Regions from separate parts of the Homo sapiens genome. Here regions 1, 2 and 3 are each linked to region 4. The links come from fine-mapping of genetic effects on gene expression. A gene starts in region 4. Each other region holds a variant in brackets. All regions are shown on one strand. Distances are from middle to middle.

Evidence for each region. PIP is the estimated chance that this variant, and not a neighbour inherited with it, causes the effect.
Region 1: its variant is the best candidate, but not a certain one, in a credible set for the expression of SH3GL2 in prefrontal cortex (ROSMAP, PIP 0.64).
Region 2: its variant is the best candidate, but not a certain one, in a credible set for the expression of SH3GL2 in thyroid (GTEx, PIP 0.69).
Region 3: its variant is the best candidate, but not a certain one, in a credible set for the expression of SH3GL2 in lung (TOPMed, PIP 0.87).

The regions. Positions count from the first base shown.
Region 1 is chr9:17,730,464-17,735,614 of GRCh38, reverse strand. All of the region lies in intron 1 of SH3GL2 (SH3 domain containing GRB2 like 2, endophilin A1), which reads right to left. Among named protein-coding and RNA genes, the nearest start is that of SH3GL2, 150 kb to the right of the region's middle. The variant T/C (reference allele first, on the strand shown) is at 2,052.
Region 2 is chr9:17,622,406-17,627,556 of GRCh38, reverse strand. The region is part of intron 1 of SH3GL2 (SH3 domain containing GRB2 like 2, endophilin A1); the gene reads right to left. Among named protein-coding and RNA genes, the nearest start is that of SH3GL2, 46 kb to the right of the region's middle. The variant G/C (reference allele first, on the strand shown) is at 2,855.
Region 3 is chr9:17,555,203-17,560,353 of GRCh38, reverse strand. LOC107987051 (a long non-coding RNA gene) reads right to left here. Exons shown (of 3, transcript XR_001746631.2): 3 at 4,651-5,151. Among named protein-coding and RNA genes, the nearest start is that of SH3GL2, 21 kb to the left of the region's middle. The variant C/A (reference allele first, on the strand shown) is at 3,187.
Region 4 is chr9:17,576,558-17,581,708 of GRCh38, reverse strand. It overlaps SH3GL2 (SH3 domain containing GRB2 like 2, endophilin A1), which reads right to left and starts at 2,643. Exons shown (of 9, transcript NM_003026.5): 1 at 2,422-2,643. The coding sequence starts at 2,466. RefSeq lists a silencer at 3,633-3,831.

The DNA of each region.
Region 1 (5,151 bases), 150 kb before region 4:
CTGTAGAACCCACATATACAAAAAGTTGGTCCTCTGCATAGGCAGGGCTCACATCCCATGAATATTCTATATTCCACCCACGTTTGGTTGAAAAAAAAAATTCATGTATAAGTGGACCCCACAGTTCAAGTAAGTATTGTTCAAGGGTCAACTGTAGCTATATGTCATACTCTTACATAAATACAAATCTCACACATGCACAAACACAAATATATAGGGAGCATTTTATAAATAATGGACATTTCTGGATTTTCTATAGATTCAGGGTGCTTATACTCATACATTAAACTGAGGACAGGTGCTAAGTCCTATTGCAGGATTCCAACCTGGCACTAATGGCTTCCTTTTCTCTTAATTCTGCTTAGGCTTAGTAATGTGCTAATGTCAACATCTGCCAGTGAGTGGTAGGTAGTGAATACCAGGATTCTAGGAGGCTGCCCCTTTAGTTGTTCAAGTGAGACCTGAGAGGAAGAGACAGAGGAATATTTAGAAAGAAAAGACTTAAGAGACTGGTTACCCCTTCTCATGATGTGGCAAAAGTGAAGCAGAATAGGTACCAGGAAGGGAGCCCGGAGGCAGCACTTTTGAAGTTACTTGTCCTTTAGTTCTGGAATGTAGGGGAAAGAAGAATGCATTACTTTGTAAAGATATCATTTATATCCCATAAAGTTCACCCGTTTAAAGTACACAATCCAGTGATTTTTAGTGTATTTACAGAGTTATGTAATCATCACCATACTCAAATATTACACTGCTTTCATCATACCAAAAAGAATTTTTTTACAGCCTTCACTGCCCAGGCTCCTTCCCCCAACTCCATTCCAACCTTGGTAACCACACATATACTTCTGTCTCTATGGATTTACCTACTATGGACATTTTATATAAATGAAATAATATAATTATGTGGTGTTTTGTCTCTGGCTTGTTTCACATAGCATTATGTTTTCAAGGTTCCTCATGTTGTGACATGTATCACTGCTTCATTCCTTTTATGGCTGAATAATATTTCATTGTATGGATAATCCATATTTTGTTTATTCATTCAACTGTTAATGGACATTGTGTGCTACTTACTAGGTTGAAAACTGTGGGCAAAATGTCTTACCTCTTAACTTTTCTAATATATGGATAACTAAAAGCTACCTCACAGGACAGTTATACACGAAATTATGTGAAGACTGTACAGTATAATTGAGTAAGTGCTTTGTCAATTGTAAAGTACTTTACCAATGCAAGAGATTAGTGTCAATCTATGAGCATCAATATTTGTCCTGTTACCTAAGAACAAGGTGACATCACATGAAAACTCATGGATGTGGTGACTGTAAACTTCCAAAATGCTTCTACCTCAGACAAACATGTGGCTGAATGAGGAAACAAAGATACTTTCCAAAAATCCAGGTAAATTAAAGGGTTGAGGGCAATTAGTCTAAATGGCATCATTCCAGATGATCTTGAAAAGCAAAATAATGTGCCTGCGGGCACCTGTTATGGAGTGATGAACTGGAGTGATGAACTTGAGATTTATATTTCAAAATGCAATTCTCGACTGAGAGTGCATTTTCTAGAAGGGACCTATATTAAGTTTTCTTATCAAATCAACTCATGTTACCAGAGTTCTTTAGTACACTGGTTCACTAAGCTGGCAAGCAGAGGTTAAGTAAGAGAATGTGAGAGGCCATGTGTTCTCATTGTTCAATTCCCACCTATCAGTGAGAATATGCAGTGTTTGGTTTTTTTGTTCTTGCGATAGTTTACTGAGAATGATGATTTCCAATTTCATCCATGTCCCTACAAAGGACATGAACTCATCATTTTTTATAGCTGCATAGTATTCCATGGTGTATATGTGCCGCATTTTCTTAATCCAGTCTATCATTGTTGGACATTTGGATTGGTTCCAAGTCTTTGCTATTGTGAATAGTGCCGCAATAAACACATGTGTGCATGTGTCTTTATAACAGCATGATTTATAGTCCTTTGGGTATATACCCAGTAATGGGATGGCTGGGTCAAATGGTATTTCTAGTTCTAGATCCCTGAGGAAT[T/C]GCCACACTGACTTCCACAATGGTTGAACTAGTTTACAGTCCCACCAACAGTGTAAAAGTGTTCCTATTTCTCCACATCCTCTCCAGCACCTGTTGTTTCCTGACTTTTTAATGATTGCCATTCTAACTGGTGTGAGATGGGTAGGGATAGCATTGGGAGATATACCTAATGCTAGATGACAAGTTAGTGGGTGCAGCACACCAGCATGTCACATGTATACATATGTAACTAACCTGCACATTGTGCACATGTACCCTAAAACTTAAAGTATAATAATAAAAAAATGAAAAAAATAAAAAAAATTTAAAAAAAGAGAATGTGAGAGGGAAATAAACACATTCATTAGCATATGCAGTCTAACTTCGTTTTGCTTTGGCAAAATGAAGGATTATATTTCTGACATGGGGTGAGGGTTGTAGGAAAGAGGAGGTCTGACCACCCATCAAAAAAGAATCACTGTAGAATTAAACTTATGATTTGATGGGAAGATATCATCCCACGGGTACACACTTGTGCTGAAGAGTGGGGAAGGCAGCAGCAGTAAGAACTGCCAAGGACGTGGGGAGTGAAGTGACCAGGTATGCTATGGTCAGACAGCCAGGTGTTACAGAGAGAGGACTGAAACCCAGGTCCCCTGATTCCAAACCCACTCAAACTTCTGTTCCCAGGAAAGGATCTATTTGGGTTGGCTATAATCAATATGCAACTTCAGTGTGCAAAAATCTTTTAAATTTTTTAAAATTTGCTTCTCATAACTGTTTATATTGCTAAAAGCTGTTGGTGAACATTTTCTTGGAAATGAACAAGAATTGATTAAAATCAATTAGGTTTTACTGTCCTTCAATAATAAATCCATAATCTCCTTCCTTTGCCTATAGGCCTATTGAATCATATTATCACTAGGCCAATTATACCATTCCCCATGAAGACTTCCAAACCCCTCTGTGCTCCCATGGCCCCTGTGCCTAACCATTCAGCACTTGTTAGACAGTATTTTAAACTATCGTTGTTTATATGAATGCCTCTACAAACTTTCTGAGTTCCTGCAAGGCAGTGATTTTGATCTTGTTCATCCCTCTTTCCCAGTGCCTAATGTAGGCCTGATATATGCTCCAGAATACATTAACAGACAAGGAGGCAGTGGAACAGTATACCAACCTCTATACTAATTTGATCTGCTTATCCTTCCTTTAACTTCCAATTTCTAATTAATTCTCTTTGATATCATTCCCCTGAACCACCATGCATTTGTCTTTTCCTCTTTCCCACCAGATATGCCTCTTCCAGTGGCAAACCTTGAGGGCAAAAGGCAGTTACAGAAAAAAAGAGTAATTAGCAACAACTCCGGTCACCATCTCCAACAGTACTACCTTAAACAGGTTATTTTTTAAAGGGTAATATTAATGTGCTGTTATGATTGTTGTTGAGAATATGATGAAGTCCAAAAAAAGAGTGAAAGTGAGTTGGCCTACTCAACACTCATGTCATTTAAAACAGTCATGATCAGACACAACAGTCAAATGTGTTGCCTTTTTTATATGCTTGTTTCCCTATCACAGTATCTCCTCCTCTGCCATCACAGGTCAGAACCTGACTACCTTCTAATTTCTACCACTTGTTCATTTAAAAATAGTCACTGAATGTCTTTTGTATGTCCGGCACTGAGGATACTGTGAGGAGGATGTCCAAAAGCCCAGGGGGTAAATAGGGAAAGCATAGCTCCTCCAAGAGACCAGCACCGATGCAAATCAGAGAGGGAGGGAGAGAGCACTTGAGATGAAGCTGAAGACACTGGCAAAAGCCAGAACCTGCAAGCCCCTTTGGACTAAACTAAGGCTTCCATCCTAACAGCGATGAGGGAGTCTATCAGTCAGCTTGGGCTGTCATAACAAAATACCAGAGACCGGGTAAGCTTAAACAATAGAATTTTACCTTCTTGTGGTTCTAGAACTAGAAGCCCAAGATAAGAGTGCCAACATGGTTGGTTTTTGGTGAACGCTCAATTCCTGGCTTGCATGACGCTGCCTTTGCCTTCTCACTGTGTCCTCACATAAACCTTCCTCTGTGGTTGTGTGGAGAGAGAAAGATGCTCTCTCTCTCTCTCTGTCTGTCTCTCTCTCTCTCTTTCTCTCTCTCTCTCTTCCCTACCTCCCCCCACCTCCCTCCCTTTTCCTCTTCCTCTTCTTTTAAGGGCACAAATTCCATCAGCAGGGTTCTACCCTCACGAACTCATATAACTTTAAACACCTCCCAAGGGCCCCATCTCCAAATACCATCACATTAGGGGTTAGGGCTTCAACGTATATTTGGGGGAACACAAACATTCAGTCCATAGCAGGGAGAAACATAAGATTTATAATTTTAAAACATCGCTCTAGATATATTTAGTGCAAAGCCACTCAGCCAAATAACAGCTTGGCATAACCAAAGGACGCTGCTTTAGGAAAAGGTATCATTCCTGCCACAAGGACTATACAACGTTTTGCTTTCATCTGCAGAACCACAGAATCGTGACTGTCGCAAGGCTGGCATGCATAAGAACATATGGCTCTCTCTGAAAGTTTTGCATGCCTCAAGTCCCAAATCTGCTAATAAAAACATCCCGTTCTCTAAGTAAGCCTAAGTGTGCACTTATTTAAAAAACTGTTTTTGTCCTTTTGTTTTGGTTCCTCTCCTTACACAGCATATTGAAATCTTCAGTGAGATTTAATTTTCTGAAGTCTAAGTGAAATTTCCCAAAGAACTATAGTTTCCTGAAAATTTTGCACTTTGTTGAATTACCATCAATTCACGTCATATTTAGAGCAACTTAGATCATGTTTGACCTGTTATTTAAAATTTAGGAGAGTATCTTCAATAGATGCAGAAAAGGCCTTTGTAAAATTCAACACTCCTTCATGCTAAAACACTTAATAAACCAGGTATTGATTGAACCTATCTCAAAATAATAAGAGCTATTTATGACAAACCCACAGCCAATATCATATTGAATGGGCAAAAAGCTGGCAGCATTCACTTTGAAAACCGGCACAAGATAAGGATGCCCTCTCTCACCACTCCTATTCAACATAGTATTGGAAGTGCTGGCCAAGACAATCA
Region 2 (5,151 bases), 46 kb before region 4:
ACCTTGTAATAATGATTACTTTATTGTTTGTGATTTTAAAAGTCAAATAACAGATAGGGTCTGCTTGCTAACACTTGACGTCTGTTACTTTTCACCATAGCCAAGAAGGTCACAGTTTCAGGCCTTTACTTCCAGAAGAGCTCTCGGGTGGGCCAGGAATGAAGAACCCAGCAAAGCGGTTAGGGATCCAGCACCTTCTGAGAGCTCTGCCATTATTCCCCAACGATCAAGCTAGCTCTCTGCCTCATAGGAAGATGAGCTGTAGGTGGGCTCTGGGCACTATCTAAGCTTTGGAGCAATATATGGCGCTGCAGGATGAAAACAGGGAACAGGACAGGATGGTGTCTCATTGGTGAGTGCTAATAAAAACAGCAGCTGACGTTTTATTCCTTGAGTGTATTGAAAAAACTCTGGCTTTGGAATCTGGCAGTTTTTACCGGCAGTCCCAATTCTTCTATTTAGTAAGTTAAACATGTTATTCAGTCTTTGGCACCTCCAATACAGGGTAGTTGTGACAATTACATGAGGAGAGGTACATCCAGCACACGACCAGGGCCTGACAGAAAGTGGAGGTTAAAGAAGATTATCCTGGCTCAGACCTGCTCAGGGAACCAGTAATGGGGGAGGGGAAGCTGAGCCAGCCCCCAAATTTGGTAGTTAGAAAGGAGACTATTTTCAAGGCCTCCTCTTCCTCGACTCTTCCACAAATTAAAGTGCTCAGATATCTATGAGAGACACGGGAGGTAAAGGCAGTTCTCCAAAGGAATGTGAAGAAGACATATTGGAGGCCATACTTTGGAGAGGGACTGTCAAATGTCCACAAGAATCTGCAGAAAGCTATGGGAGCCATTCCTCCAAAAAATGCATTCATACAAACATATAACATTTTGCATCTAATTTCAGGGAGTCCACAGATCCTTACACATTCCTTATTCAATGGCCTTCGATTTACTGGTAAAGGTTACCTGATATGTCTTAAAGTAACTGCACTAGACTGCCATTGTTTTACTCTTTAAAAAAATAAAAATCATTACTGCCATTTTAAAAATCCATGAGCATGAAGATTTTAAGAAAATAAAATCAAAAACAGAGCAGGAAATAAGAGAGAGATGAGGACACAGTCCAACTAGGACCTTAATGAAGCCACACCTCTGGCCCAGCGAGGCTTCTAGAAGGGGCAGCTGTGTGGTCCTCTAACCTCAGAGTGGCTCAACTGTCCCTCACAAAGGTCCCTGTCCCCCGCAACATGCTCCTGCCATTCCCAACCATGGCCTCAGGCCAGAGCAATCTGAAAGCACTCACATGGGCTCATATCCCCTTGACATATGGAGGCAATAAAAGAAGCAGGTGCCAGGTGGAGGTCAGACCCGTCCCAGACCCACACCTGCCGAGGCACAAACATGGGCTCCCACAGGCTCCATCTGCTGTGTCCTGCGGCCAGAGCCTCCCTCTGGGAACCAAAACCAAAGAGCCAAGTGGACACCTCCCCAGCCTCACAAGACAGTCCATCAGCTCAGGTAGGGAAGATGAGATGGGGAAGACTGAAGTAAAGGACAAGGAGAAGAAAACAGCTTTTCTGCTCTGCTTCATCAACCACAGTCAGTGAGACCGATGCTGTCACATGGTTTTCTCTAATTGCCTTGAGGTAAGCATGGGGTTTAAGACATACCTCCTGGGACAGGTTTCCCATGAAGACACAAAGTGACCTCAGCCTCCCTTTCACACTGAAAAACGATACCCCCAGTATGTGAAGCTTCAGACAGGAAACTGATTAAGAAGGAAGAAATCTACCCCACCTCCTACCCTGCCAATTCCTGTACCTAAGCTGCTTCCACAGGGCTTACTTTTCTTCTTCAGTTTTTAACTAAGACAAGAAGAAAGCACAAAGAGGCAGAAGTGCCAAGTTGAAGTTCTGGTTCTGCCACTTACTAGCTCTTTGCTACTAAGGAAAAGAGACTAACTTTCCCCATTGGAAATGTACTCTCTTTGCCTTGTTTCCCTGTCTGTAAAATAGAATTGATCTCTGCCTGATTATCACACAAGGTATTGTCCAGAGGATCCCATGAGATGAGAAAAGTAGGAATGCGTTTTAAATAGCTCCATACTGGTAAGAAAGTGTCAGAAATTATCAGGTGACTTGCAAGTTAGGAGGCAATGAAAGGAGGTGGACTGTAAAAAACGAACTGTGTGTTGCCACAGTAGTAATTCTGCTCATTCCACACAGCAATATAAAGTGGGGCTTCTGGACCAGGATTCAATCAACAACAGATGTGGACTATCTGGCCTCTGCAGGCTGCTCCCACCAAGGGAACCAGAATACCATCCACTCACCACCTCCCCCTGCCCATTCACACAGGATGAACCAATGTTAAAGGGGCACCTACAGAGCATGGTGAGACGAGAACACAACTAAAAATGCAAGCATGAGAGAGTGCCAAAATGTGCATGTTCATTAAAATGCAGGCCAGCCCCCTCCCAAAAAAAGTATGGCCAGAGGGAAAGGGACACAATCTGTCAGGCCAACTCTAGCCAAGGTTTACAAACAAATTAAATAGAAGAACAATTTTCATCTCACTCACACTCTGAACAGATATTCCTCATTTACCAATTGCAAATCAAAATTGTTCTTCCTCAGTACCCCAACATTTCCACTTGACCCAACATCTACCAAGAAATGGATAGTTCCCAAAGCCTGGGCCTAACACTTCACACAGCACAGAAGCAAATGGAAAACACAGACCATACTGCCTATACCCTTTCTCCACTAAAAGGAATCTGGGATCCTCAAAGGAACAGATGGCTCCAGGGCTAGAGTATATACAAGATGAGCCTGATCACATTGTTATGCCAGAAA[G/C]TGAAAAATTTGTCAAAAGTAAGTGATGGGAACATGCCACATGGACACAGGAGCCATCTTGAAGGGGCCCCCACTAGCCAACTCAAATTTGATTGAGGGCTCAAATTGAGTACAGTGGTAAATTATGAACCAACGGAAAATGGGAACTCTTGAGTGCACACAAAAAATAAATAAATAAAATTATATGAGACTCTTGCTTAGAGCAGAATGTCAAAGGCTAAATGGTAAACATGGAAAGAGCATGGAGATGGAAAATCATGTTTGCGCACCTATCACTGTGAAGACTGGACCCAGTAATAATCATCAATGGATGCTAAATCTTGCACTGACTTTGAGGAGAAGGAGGATATCTATATGACCTTACAGTAGCTCCCCACAGACCACTTATTGCAAGGGAAGAAAGAGAAAACAATAATTATATAATCAGGAAACTAGACAACACTGTGAAAGGATGTTAAAAATCATCGCCACCGATGGGCATAAGGTGCCTGCAGGTTGGACATCCTGGCAAGGACACATCACTATGCAATATTCCAACTGAGATTGCATCACCCTGAATCTAATCATGAGGCAGCAACAACCTCAAACTGACAGCCACTGCATTTTTAACGGGCAGGATGCAGTCTTAAAAACGAGATAAACCAAGGCTGTGCAAATGTTTCAGATTAAAAGAAACGAACGAATGAAATAAAATGAAGTATTTGACCCCAGACTAGAACCTGTATGAGACAGAAAAATATTATTCAAAATGTAATTGGGTTAACTTGTTAATTGGAATATAAATATTAGATCTGATTTTTTAAATTGTATCAATGTTAAATTTACTCAAGTTGATAATAGTGCTGCGGTTATAGTATAAGAGAATATCCCAATTCTTAGGAAATAAATACTTAGGTAATTAGAAGTAAAGGACCATGATATAGTAACATATCCTCAAAATGGTTCAGAAAAATATATGGTGGGTGGTGTGTGTGTGTGTGTGTGTGTGTGTGTGTGTAGGAAATTATAAATAGGGTTAAATATAAGAAAAGGTGAATTAGATAAATAAATGGACAGGTATTCTTTGTAATTTTTTTCTGTAAATTTGAAATGATTTCCAAGCAAAAAGAAAATGCAAACAAAAAACATATTGAACCTTCATTCTCCGATTACATTTTTCATGAAACATTGTCCAGTCTTAACTTTCAGAACATCAATCTCTTCTGGATTTCTCTCTGACTTGTCCTTCACAGGCAACCTTCTTCTTAATTCATTCCCTAAGATTGATAGGTCATTTTGTTCTCAGTCTACACACTACCCTATATAGAATCTAATTCCATTTGAACTACATACGTATACAACACCTAAGGCCACATATCCCACAACTCTACTTTCTGAACCTCGCCAGCTAGCTTCCCACAAGCTCCTCCTATGGACAGGACACATCTTCTACACCTGGCAACATTCAGACGTATCGTAGGGACCTTAGACACCAGAGACTAACTTCTCATCCCTCACCCTTAACCACTAAAGGGCCCACTCCGATGGAAGGACAAGGGGAAAGAACAGAACCAGGGCTTTATTTCACCCTTCCAAACAGTGAACTAAAGCAGAACGAATGCAAAGATAGGAAAGGGGAAGGGGAAGGGGAAGGGGAAGGGGAAGGGGAAGGGGAAGGGGAAGGAAAGGAAAGGAAAGGAAAGGAAAGGAAAGGAAAGGAAAGGAAAGGAAAGGAAACGAAAGGAAACGAAAGGAAAAGGGAGGGAGGAAGGGAAGGAAGAAGCAAGGAAGGAGCAGGTATAATTTCATTCTGCCATATTACAGCAAGCATAGTTCTTACTCTCAAAAACTGCGGCAGAGGATTGGCAGTCTTTGAGTCTTGGTTTTCATGCCCCAAGCACATACCCTGCCAACGGAGTGACCAAAAGGTGAGGCTCAGGATCCATTATTCTTTACTTACCGTGCCTGCTCTGACTTCCTCATTTTGAAATTAAGGACATCAAGAGCACCTACCTACCAGCCCACTTTCTCAGAGAATAAGACAAACCCAGGGTCACATGAGAAAACCACAGGTACTGTTCAATCCCAATTAATATTCTTCCACATTTTTTAATTGGTATCACTTTTTTTTTGGTCTTTGTAGAGGTATTAAAAGAATAAAGTTGTGGACACCTATGATGAAACATGAGTATCCCACAGGTGGCGCCGAATCTGGAAATAGGAGGTTCTTTGCTCACAAGTGGCCTGGACACCCAATTCTAGTGTCCTTATTTACTATGGAAGCATTTTTAATCATGCTGCCTCTTAAGAGATCCTCC
Region 3 (5,151 bases), 21 kb after region 4:
ATTTTTTCTAATATTAGGTTCAAAGTTACAAATAAATCCTTTTCTATTCTTTTAATAATTACCCTTGATATTGCAAAACATATTTTTAACTGATTAGAATGTCATGTTTATTGATATTGTTCTCTTGGACAAGGCAAGGACTCTAGCATAATTTAACTCCATTTACCCAACTTCTGACTTATGTCTATAAGACGCTTTTATTATTGTTTCATACAGCCAATATTCATGCAGATTGATTCATAAATTTCCCCTTCTATTGCTCTTCATTTTTCCTAGGTCTCCCACCTTCCATCTGTGAACATTTTTATTCTGCCTAAACAATATCCTTTGGTGTTTTCGTAAGAATAGGTTTGCTGGTGATAAATCCACTGTTTTTGCTCATCTGAAAATGTCTTCATTTCAATTGCTTTTTTTGAGGATGAAAACAGAATTTTAGATTGGCAGTTTTTTAAAGTACTTTAAAGATATTTTCTCATTATCTTCAGGCTGCCATTATTTTTCATACAAAGTCAGCTCACTCTAATTTTCATAATTTGTCTTCATTCCTCCTTCACTCCGCCTCCTGGCTGCTTTTAAGATTTTTCTCTTTGTTATTTGTTTACAGCCATTTAATTGTGATGCATAGGTATGGATCTCTTTTTATTTATCTTATTTATAGTTTATAGGACTTTTTAGTCTGTGTCTTGATTTCTTTCACCAGTGTTGGAAATTTCTTAGCCATGATCTGTTCAATTAGAACTGTTTCTGTCACGTTCTCTCTAGGACTAAAATTACTCATAGCTTAGATCTTTTTCACTCTATTCTGTAGGTATTTTATCTTCCCCTTTGTATTTTTCACCCTTTTATCTCTCCATGCTGCATTCTGGTTTATCTTTTGTTAGCTCTGCTTTTAGGTACGTTCAAATTTTTGTTTGAGCTAGTATATAAAAACATATTTTATATACTGAGCTTTTATGCAATGGCCTTGATAAATCCATTTGCTAATTGTAATAGTTGATCTAAAGATTATTTTGGATTTCTATGAATGCAAACATTTAGTATGCAAATGGGGTGCATGAATGGCAGTTACTGTTCCCTTTCCAATGTTTTCTTTCTTTTTCTTGACTTACAGCACTGTAACAGTGGAAATAGCAAGCATCCTTTATTTTTTTAATCTCAGAAAGATGTTTTCAATATTTTCTCATTAAGTACTCTGTTTATTATCCTGTTTTCTTGGTAGCTTTTATTCTATTTAAGAAATTTCTATCTACTACTAGTTTGCTAAGAGTTTATTATTAACATGGTGGAATTTCATCAAATATTTTCGCTGCATCTATTGATATAGTCAAACTTTTTTCTCCTTTATTGTGTGGTTGAGTGATTTTCAAATATCTGAATAACATTGCATTCCTGGGAAAACTACAACTTGGTTGTATTGTATATTTACATTTTATGTATTGATGGATTAGATTTACTAATATTTTGCTTAGGATTTTTGCAACTAAGTTCCTAAGAGTAATTGGCCTATCATTTTCCTTTCTTGTAATATGATTTTCAGGATTTCTGGTTGATTCTTTCAGACATCGAAGGCATAAGTCTGGAATCATCTTAATATGATCTTAGGACTAGAAATGATTCGAAACTGGGCTACAGTCACAGAGAGGGCCAGAATAAATATAAAAAAAAAATTCGATTGACATTTAAGTAGGCAAAATATAACTAGATGGAAAACTACTGAAAAATTAGGCTTATGTTATTAATGATATCTTTAAAATAATCAACATCTTCCTAGTTCTATAGCCATGACCCATAAACCACACTGGCCTGGTGGACACTGGCTTTCACCCAATTATTTTGTAGAAAAAGTAGCTAATCGGTCTGATCCAGAGTAATAAATCACATCCCCCAGCCCACTTCCACGCAGGAAAAATTAGAAAGTATATATGGCAAATGCCATATTCACCAAAAACTCCTTTTGTTTAGATTTAGTCTTATTTTTACATGTTTAAACAGGTGTTTCCTTTTAATAAGACGTTATCTAGAAACAAGAGAAGACTAACAGTCTGTACAAATGGAGAATGTTAAAATAAGCTTCAAATAAATCATTCGGGAAGACTCCCTGCCAGATGATCTATAATGTATGCCACTTTTCCTCCTTTCCAGGGGAGAAGCAGAGACATGGCGCCTGAGTAATAAATATATTCACAGAAAACATCGCCGAGTCCTTAACGATCTTGAGAGTGAAAAATGAGGCTTTAAAACAGCATTGTGAACAACACAAGAAACATCAAAGTAAAGCAAAAAGTATCTTGGGAGGGAAAAGGCAATGACTGAATTCCCAATATTACAGCATGTTGTTACAACAAAAATATTTGTATTTCCACAGAGCTCTAATATGGTGGAATAGAAGGATCTGTTCAAGCAGTGACCAATACAAAAAAACACCCTAGAAGGTAACTGAAGAACATACGCTGTAATCTGTTTTATACATGTCTTATCATCAGTGAATATCTATTGAGCTCTCAGTGAGCATTTATGCCTGCAAACAGTTGCATTAAAAATTACAGAAATGATCCAGTCCTTTCCCACAGGACATCCCATTCCAAAAGAGCAAGATGTACAACTCATTCTCTTTCTATGGGCAGATTCTACTTTTTCTTTTTCTTCACCATGGTGATTCCCAGCCTCACTTTACCAAATGAGGATTAAATGGATGGGATTCAAATCTGTCTTTTAAGAAATGGAGAAGAAAGCAAGCAGGACTATGCACAAAAAGGTTGTTCCAACTCCATAGAATTTAAGGAATCATGAATTGTAGATGGAGACCTCGATGCAGCCAGGGATCATGAAATCAAAGGCCAGGGATGCAGGCCAGATCACATCCACAAAGAGATAGGATCTCTCCCCTTATTCATGAAATCTGAGGCCTTCTTTTGTTTGTTTCTGTAGACCCACGAGTTCAGAGAAATGTTTCTCTACTTAAAGAAAATCCACTGGCAAGTCTTATGATAAATGGCAGCCACCCTTGACCTCAGTGTGGGGAGTCCATAGAGCAGAGCTGCAGGAGAAGATCCAGGTTTCCTGGAGTCAGAAATGTATACAATTGTGGAGGCCTCTTTAAGAAAACAACACAGAATTGCAAATACAAAATTGGGTCAAGGGCCTTGAAAGATCAGGCTTTAGCATGTTAGCTTTCTTATCTTCAGA[C/A]AATATGTACCTCTGCTTGGGGAGGCTGGTACAGCGTCTCAAGAGGGCAGCCTCTCCTCAACCCAGCTGACTGTTGCCCTTAGGGAAACTGGCCAAACTAGCCAGATCTGATATTCTAAGAACACCCAGAAATCTGGATGTCTATGAGAAATTCCCCCCATTTAAAAACATTGGCAAAACGTTCAAGGTTTAAAGAAACAAAACAGGAAGACCTGTGTAAGACTCAACCTTTGGTCTTCACGTTGGCACCTCTGGCAAATTGAATTCTGCAGTAACTGAGGCCCGAGTTAGGTTGTTGCCCTAATCCCTCAGGTGCACCTCTCTGCTGGACACCCTCGTGGAGGCTGGTTTAACTTAAGCAGTCCAACCACAGAAGCTCTCGTGTGAAATGCATCCAGCTTAGACAGTGCTTTTCAGTGAGGAGCTTGAGGAGAGGGCCCAAACTTAAGGGAAATGTTAGAACACAGTGGCAGAAGGAGATGACAGATTGAATGTGGGAGGAGAAAAACGACTTCCAGACCCCTGTCTTTGAAAATAGATTAAATCATGGACCCTCATACAGTGATTAGACAGCTGGGACACGTGGAAGGCTTTAAGGCAGCATTTCTGAAAACGTGCTCCACAGACCATCTTATTCTGGAATACCTGGTGTGCCTGTGAAAATGCTGATCTCTGGGCCCAACCCCGAAAGGAGCGTGTAAGTGCCTGTGAGTAGGGCTCAGGAATATGCACTTTGACAAGCACCACGTGATTCTTAGGCACAGTTACAGTTAAGAAACACAAGTGGGAAGCTCTTTTCTTTTTTTCTTTCTTTTTTTTTTTTTTTTTTTTAGTCTTGCCAAGAGCTGCTTACGGGACTGGCTGCGTATGAGAAAGCTTCCAGACTTCCAGTTATCTGAGCCGGTGCCCCTGGGAGACACTGGCAAGTTGGTCCCAGTCATTCACTGCCCTCTTCCTGGCCCACACATTTTTAGTTCTGAACCTCAATGGCTCTTTAAGCTGCCAAGCAGAATGAACCACTGAGTCTTTAAGAACACCACCTAGGGTAAATGGGCCAAGCCCCAGCTGATTTGACCCTCTGACTTCCTCCTTGACATTCTTGCTGACACATTGCAACCTCAGCTGTATTTTGTTGACAATTAGCAGATGAAGTGTCCTGAAAACCCAAGGTCTGCTTTATATAAGTTACAAAATGCTTACCAATGACAGTATTAATACCAGGCCTTCTTAACAACATATTCTTGATTACAGTAACTTTGCCTCTGAGTCTTACGTGAAAGAAAAATCTGCAGGTGTTTCTGTGCCACAGTGAGCACGTATGTCCATGCGGCAATACCCTAAGGAAACTCCCTTCTCCGGAATATCTCAGTTGACCTTGCTCTGTATTTCCTTTAATTAACATAAATAGTTGTGACATTATTTCTGTGTATACATTCTTCCCCCATCAGAATTTTAACTCAAGAGTAAAGAGTACATTTTTATTTAATAAGAATTCAATATCAACCAATTGGGAGGTAAAAAAGTAAGACATGATTAAGGCCTAGGAGGAAGAGGAGATAATGTGAGATATTAGGGAACTGAAAAAGCCAAGTTACAACCTGACAAAACCAGACACTAAGGAGGGGACCATCTGGGTCACTAGGCTGCTTAAACAACCTGAACCTGAGACACAACACAGTCCACATACAAACATTATCCCACACTGGTGGAGTTCAATCTTCAATATCTTTCCCTCACCCCTACCATGGCTTACCATGCTCTCCTTGCCTCCTTTGTTATCTTTTCTCTGGACTCATCTATTAGCCCTTACTGGTTAATGGTTACCTCTCTGTTCTAAGCTTTACTTCTTGTCTCCTGTTTTCCTCTTTTTCTGTCTTCCCTGGATAATCAGAGGAGGAACTGCCAGGCACCATCTCCTAAATCAACTTGCTCATGAGCAGGGGCCAAATGAGGATGTGTGGAAAG
Region 4 (5,151 bases):
TAAATAAATAAACAAACAAACAAACCCAGGCTATATTATCCAGCACATCAGTTCTCAAAAGGAAGTAATTCTAGGTCTAAAGCTTCTCTGTAGATAACATCAGGTTCACGGACCTGATGGAAAAAAATGGCTACAAAAGTAGGACAGGACTATTTCTCTAATTTTTTTGTCACATGCAAACATTAACATGGGCTTTACATACTCTCCTAAATATACATATGCACAGAACAGTCACCTGTGCCTTAGACTTTCTAAGAGTGTGCTACACTAAATTATGGATAAGAGACTACGTGCTGCTTCACCTTTCAAATAAAAGGCTTTTCAGTAAAAGGAAGACAATGACGCAGTGATTCTGCATTTGGATTCGGTGTGATAAACATTAACCGTATCGCATCACATGCCGACCTTCTCCAACCTTTTAAGTTCTTTCCTAACGCAGTTTAAATTATTTTTTCTACACTTTAGGGCGACACAGAACTTCAAGATTTAGCGGAAATGGAGCGCTCTATTTTTTAAGTTGGAAAAACTAAAAGGTCTAGCTTGGGTAACTTCTTCACAGCATAAGGGATAGTATTTTATACTAATAAAAATATCCTTTATGTCAATAACTATAATTTATTGAACACTTTATACGTGTGTTCTACACACTCGTTTCTCTTCACCTCAACCCTGAAGAGACAACGGAAATTATCATCACTTCAGCATGGACAGGTTCAGAAGTTAAATACTCTCTCAAGGTCAGAAGCAGCAGAGGCAGGATTCAAACCTTAGCCTTTCCCACTCCAAAGCCAAGACTCTTAATTGCCTTTGAGGGCACTAAGCTTTGCAAAAGAAATCTTTAGAATCCAAGTGGAAAAAAGATGTGTTGGTAAACGCAGTGCTGAGATATGCTATAGAGAAGTGACCAGTAGAGCAATCAAAAAGGTTAGTAATATCGAAGAAGTCCTGCCACAGAATTCCTGGGCAGCACATATGCTTGGTTCTGTAAACCTGAAAGAACTTGCAGTATAAAGTTATTAGAAGCCTTCCAAACTACATCAACAAACAAATCACTTACTTTCATAAACATGTCTGGCAGAGAGGTCACAGATAACTCCAATTATAATAGAAAAGCAAAAATAATTACATTAAGAAACATTTTTACAGAAATAGTCTTACTTTTCTTGATTTCCTAAGTTGACAGGTATAATTGATTCTATAAAGGCAAGAATGTGTGATGAAGATGATGCAGATGCGTGCAAACACACACACGACGGGAATTACATGCTGCATCTGTCACCCTAAGTTAACCAAGGTTCTGTAAAACACAACCCTCACCTTTTCTGGATGTGGTTCATAACAAGGCTGCCACTGTGGTAGCCTAGGAAAAACCTCACTACTTCCGAGAAATTATGAGAAAGCTCGTTAATTAAGGCTAACCTATGAAAAACTATTTAACACCAAATCATGAAAAACATTTCGCGGTAAGTCATCAAAATCCTTAAAGATCCCATAAATTTGAACCTATTTCAGAAGGATAAAAAAGTAGTAATCACACACATTATGTAAGAAATAGGTCACAGCGTAAGTATTCGCTTACTTGCCCCTATGTAAAATTCTTTGAGTCCAATGATTTTAATTATTAGAATCTAAATTAATCAGTTTTATTACAGTCACAGCTTATTAACCCCATAAAGAAAAATGGGCACATCCAAGATGCCAAAGATTTATTAAAAACAATTTAAAATACATGATGATTTTAAGTCTTCAACAATTTGGTTGTTTTAGGGAAATATTTAAGACCCGCAGACTGTTTGTCATGCCCTGGCCTCAAAGGAGTTTCACGACCGAGTTCTCCAGGTAAAAGTTAATGTATGCGGGTCCCTAAAGGAAGACCCCAGCCTTCCATTCCCCTGGAGCCTGCGGGCGGCGGGGAAGGAGGGTTCTGACAACAGGGTAAGGGAGAGGAGCGCAAACCGCCGGCCTCCGCCCCGCCACCCCCAGTGCGGCCACCGCTCATGCCAACACATCCCGGGAAAGCCGGGTGCACCGACTCCGCAAGGTCACCCGTGAAGAGGCGACTTTACATAATCTCCCACCGCGCCGCCAAGGCACCTGCGCGCCGCGGCAGCAGTGCAGCCGCGGTCCCCTTCCTGCAGCACGGGCGCGAGATGATGCGGGGGCGGCGAGCAGCGCTACCAGGCAGGACGCCGGGGACCCGCGGGAAGGCAGCGCGCACCAAGCCGGGGGCGGGGGACCGAGGGTGGACGCCCAGACCGGGGATGCCCCGAGCCGCCGCCTTGGCTTGCGAGGCGGGGCGCGGCCGGCGCGGGCGAGGCTCGGTGCCGAACTCCCCAAGCTGCCGCCGGACGGCCAGCGCCGAGCGCGCCCCTCGCAGCTTCGCCCCGGACTGCCCCGGGACGCACCTGCCGCGCGCCTTACCTGAGTGGCTTTATGGAACTGCTTCTTGAGGCCGGCCACCGACATGGTGCAGGAGGCCGCGCTGGCGGCTGCTGTGCGGGAGGGAGGAGGCGGAGGGGGACTGGAGGGCCGAGCGGGGCGGCGCGCTCCCCTGGCCGCCTCTGGTCGTGCCGCCGCCGGGGCTATGGGCGCGAGGGCGCGGAGCCTAGCGGGACACGGGCTCTTGCGGAGAAACACTCTGACGTCAAGGGCGGGTGATGCGGCCTCTTAAAGGGGACGCGGGAAGCCCCGCCCCAAGCGCGGGAACGCCCAGGCAGGTGCTGTGGCGCGCGGTACCTGGATGCTGGCGCCAACTGCGGGGATGTGGCTCAGCGGCACCCGCTGGCGGATCCCTAGTCAGCGGGCCGAGGACGTCCTCCTGTCCCGGGGTTGGTGTTCCTGCCCCCGGGGGCTGCGGACGGGTCGCTGCAGATTGGCAGCCCAGGCACCCGCAGGACTCAGGTGACTTGCTGGGCTTCCAGGTAGCCGCGGCGGCGCTGCCTGCAGACGGCCCTCCTGCCCTTTGAGCCTGGCGTCTCTGCGCCGCAGCCTGAAAAAGACTGGCCTTCTATCTGGGCTAATGAATAAGTCATTGCTCCTTCTATGCCTTGCCCTGACTGGTGGGTCACAGAAAACATTTCTCTGCCCTGGTTTCAATATCCCTTAAGCCCATCTTACCTTAGGGAAAGTCACACACGCGTTTTCCCCCTTGTCTGATACAATTTAATGACTTAAAAAGAAGAACAGGAACCCTTAAGCCTGGACGGATAAATAGAATTGAAGTCTTACTACAAAACTAGCGTTCAATCCTCTGGTTACAGAAATGAAAAAGCCCAAATGTGATCTTGTTGTTATGCTTGTGGATTTAGGGTTTCCGGTCCGATAAAAATCAAAATATAATGTGAAAAAGCATGATACTAAGTTATATACAGATGCTTCATATGTAACCAAGGAGGTATGGCTGGCTAAAGTGAAACTAATAGATGACTTGGGAGCAGAGCAGCACTAAATGCCTTCTGTGCTCTGGTACTTAACCAAGTCTGGTTTTTCTAGGACTGAGGAGGTGGTCAGAAAGAACTTAGACGCTGTCCCCGTATGTGGACCAAAGTGATAAGAAGGAGAAGCCAAGATGGGAGAAATTGCCAAGGATGTGTAGAGACTGCAAGGCCAAATGGGAGTCCTAGAAATACTTTTTCTGTCTCCGCAACTCCTGCAGCCTGATAGGAGCCACAGACCCATCCCCACTCTTCTAGGCACTGCGGCTTGGGCACAGGGTGAACACCTGCTACAAAAGGGTCCTCCATCCGTAGAGCTACCAGTCATGGTCCTTCTTGATAATGTGAACTGACACACACAAAGGCAGAGTCAAGCAGTGGTGGGCACTGGAGCAGTAGAGCGCATGGACTAGGGACGCAGGCTGCAAAGGGAGGCAGATGAAAGGAGCTATTCTCCAGTGTGGTAGCCCTTACCACTGTTCATATACCTTTCCCTACATGGCAGAATTGCACTTTCCAAACCTCTTGTTAAGTGGAGGCATGGTTACAAGTTTTGACTAGAGGTTTAAGAGGAAAAGTGACTGTCACTTCTGCAGCAGCAATATGAGATGTATGAGATGCCGCAAAGCTTTCTTTTCCTCGGCCGCAATATTCTAGAAAGCTGTGGTCTGTCAGCCAGTATCCAGAGTGAGACTAAAGCAGTGCAGAGTCCCCACCTGACGTTCAATGGGCATGTAGCATCAGTGAGAAACCTGAGTAATTTTAATCCACTGAGGCTCCGGTTGTTAGGAATAAACTTTTTTCTCTATGTTTCCAATTTTTAAAAAGGCTACCCATTACTTGCATAATAGAAAAAAAAGTATTTTATAGTTAATTTTTACTACCAGGTCCCTGATCTGAACAATAAAGCATTTTCATAAGACAGGGCTTTGTTGAAGCTGCCAAAAGATAGAGCAATTGATCTACAAAGTGGAAGGGCCTGGGATGGATAGGAGCTCTGCTCTCTAACAGTGAAAGGTGTGAAATGGGGGCCTGAATTGCCTCCTTGGAACTTTGAATACTTAACTGAGCCCTACATTATAAAAAAGGCAGTTTCTATCTTTCCCTGGTTCTTCATCCACCAACCTGGAAGTCTCATGCTGCTTAACTTCAAAGAAACTACCTTGGGAGAAAAAAACTACTTAAGGGCATTACATTAAATCCTTTGGAAACCATTGATTTAGTCGCCCAGGCATCCTCTGCACCTCATCTTATATGGTTTGGCTGTGTCCCCACCCAAATCTCATCTTGAATTGTAACTCTCACAATTCCCACGTGTCGTGGGAGGAACCCAGTGGGAGTGATTGAATTATGGGGGTGGGTCTTTCCTACACTGTTCTCGTGGTAGTGAATGAGTCTTACAAGATCTGATGGTTTTAAAAACAGGAGTGTCTAGTTCAACCATTGTGGAAGTCAGTGTGGCGATTCCTCAGGGATCTAGAACTAGAAATACCATTTGACCCAGCCATCCCATTACTGGGTATATACCCAAAGGACTATAAATCATGCTGCTATAAAGACACATGCACACGTATGTTTATTGCGGCATTATTCACAATAGCAAAGACTTGGAACCAACCCAAATGTCCAACAATGATAGACTGGATTAAGAAAATGTGGCACATATACACCATGGAATACTATGCAGCCATAAAAAATGATGAGTTCATGTCCTTTG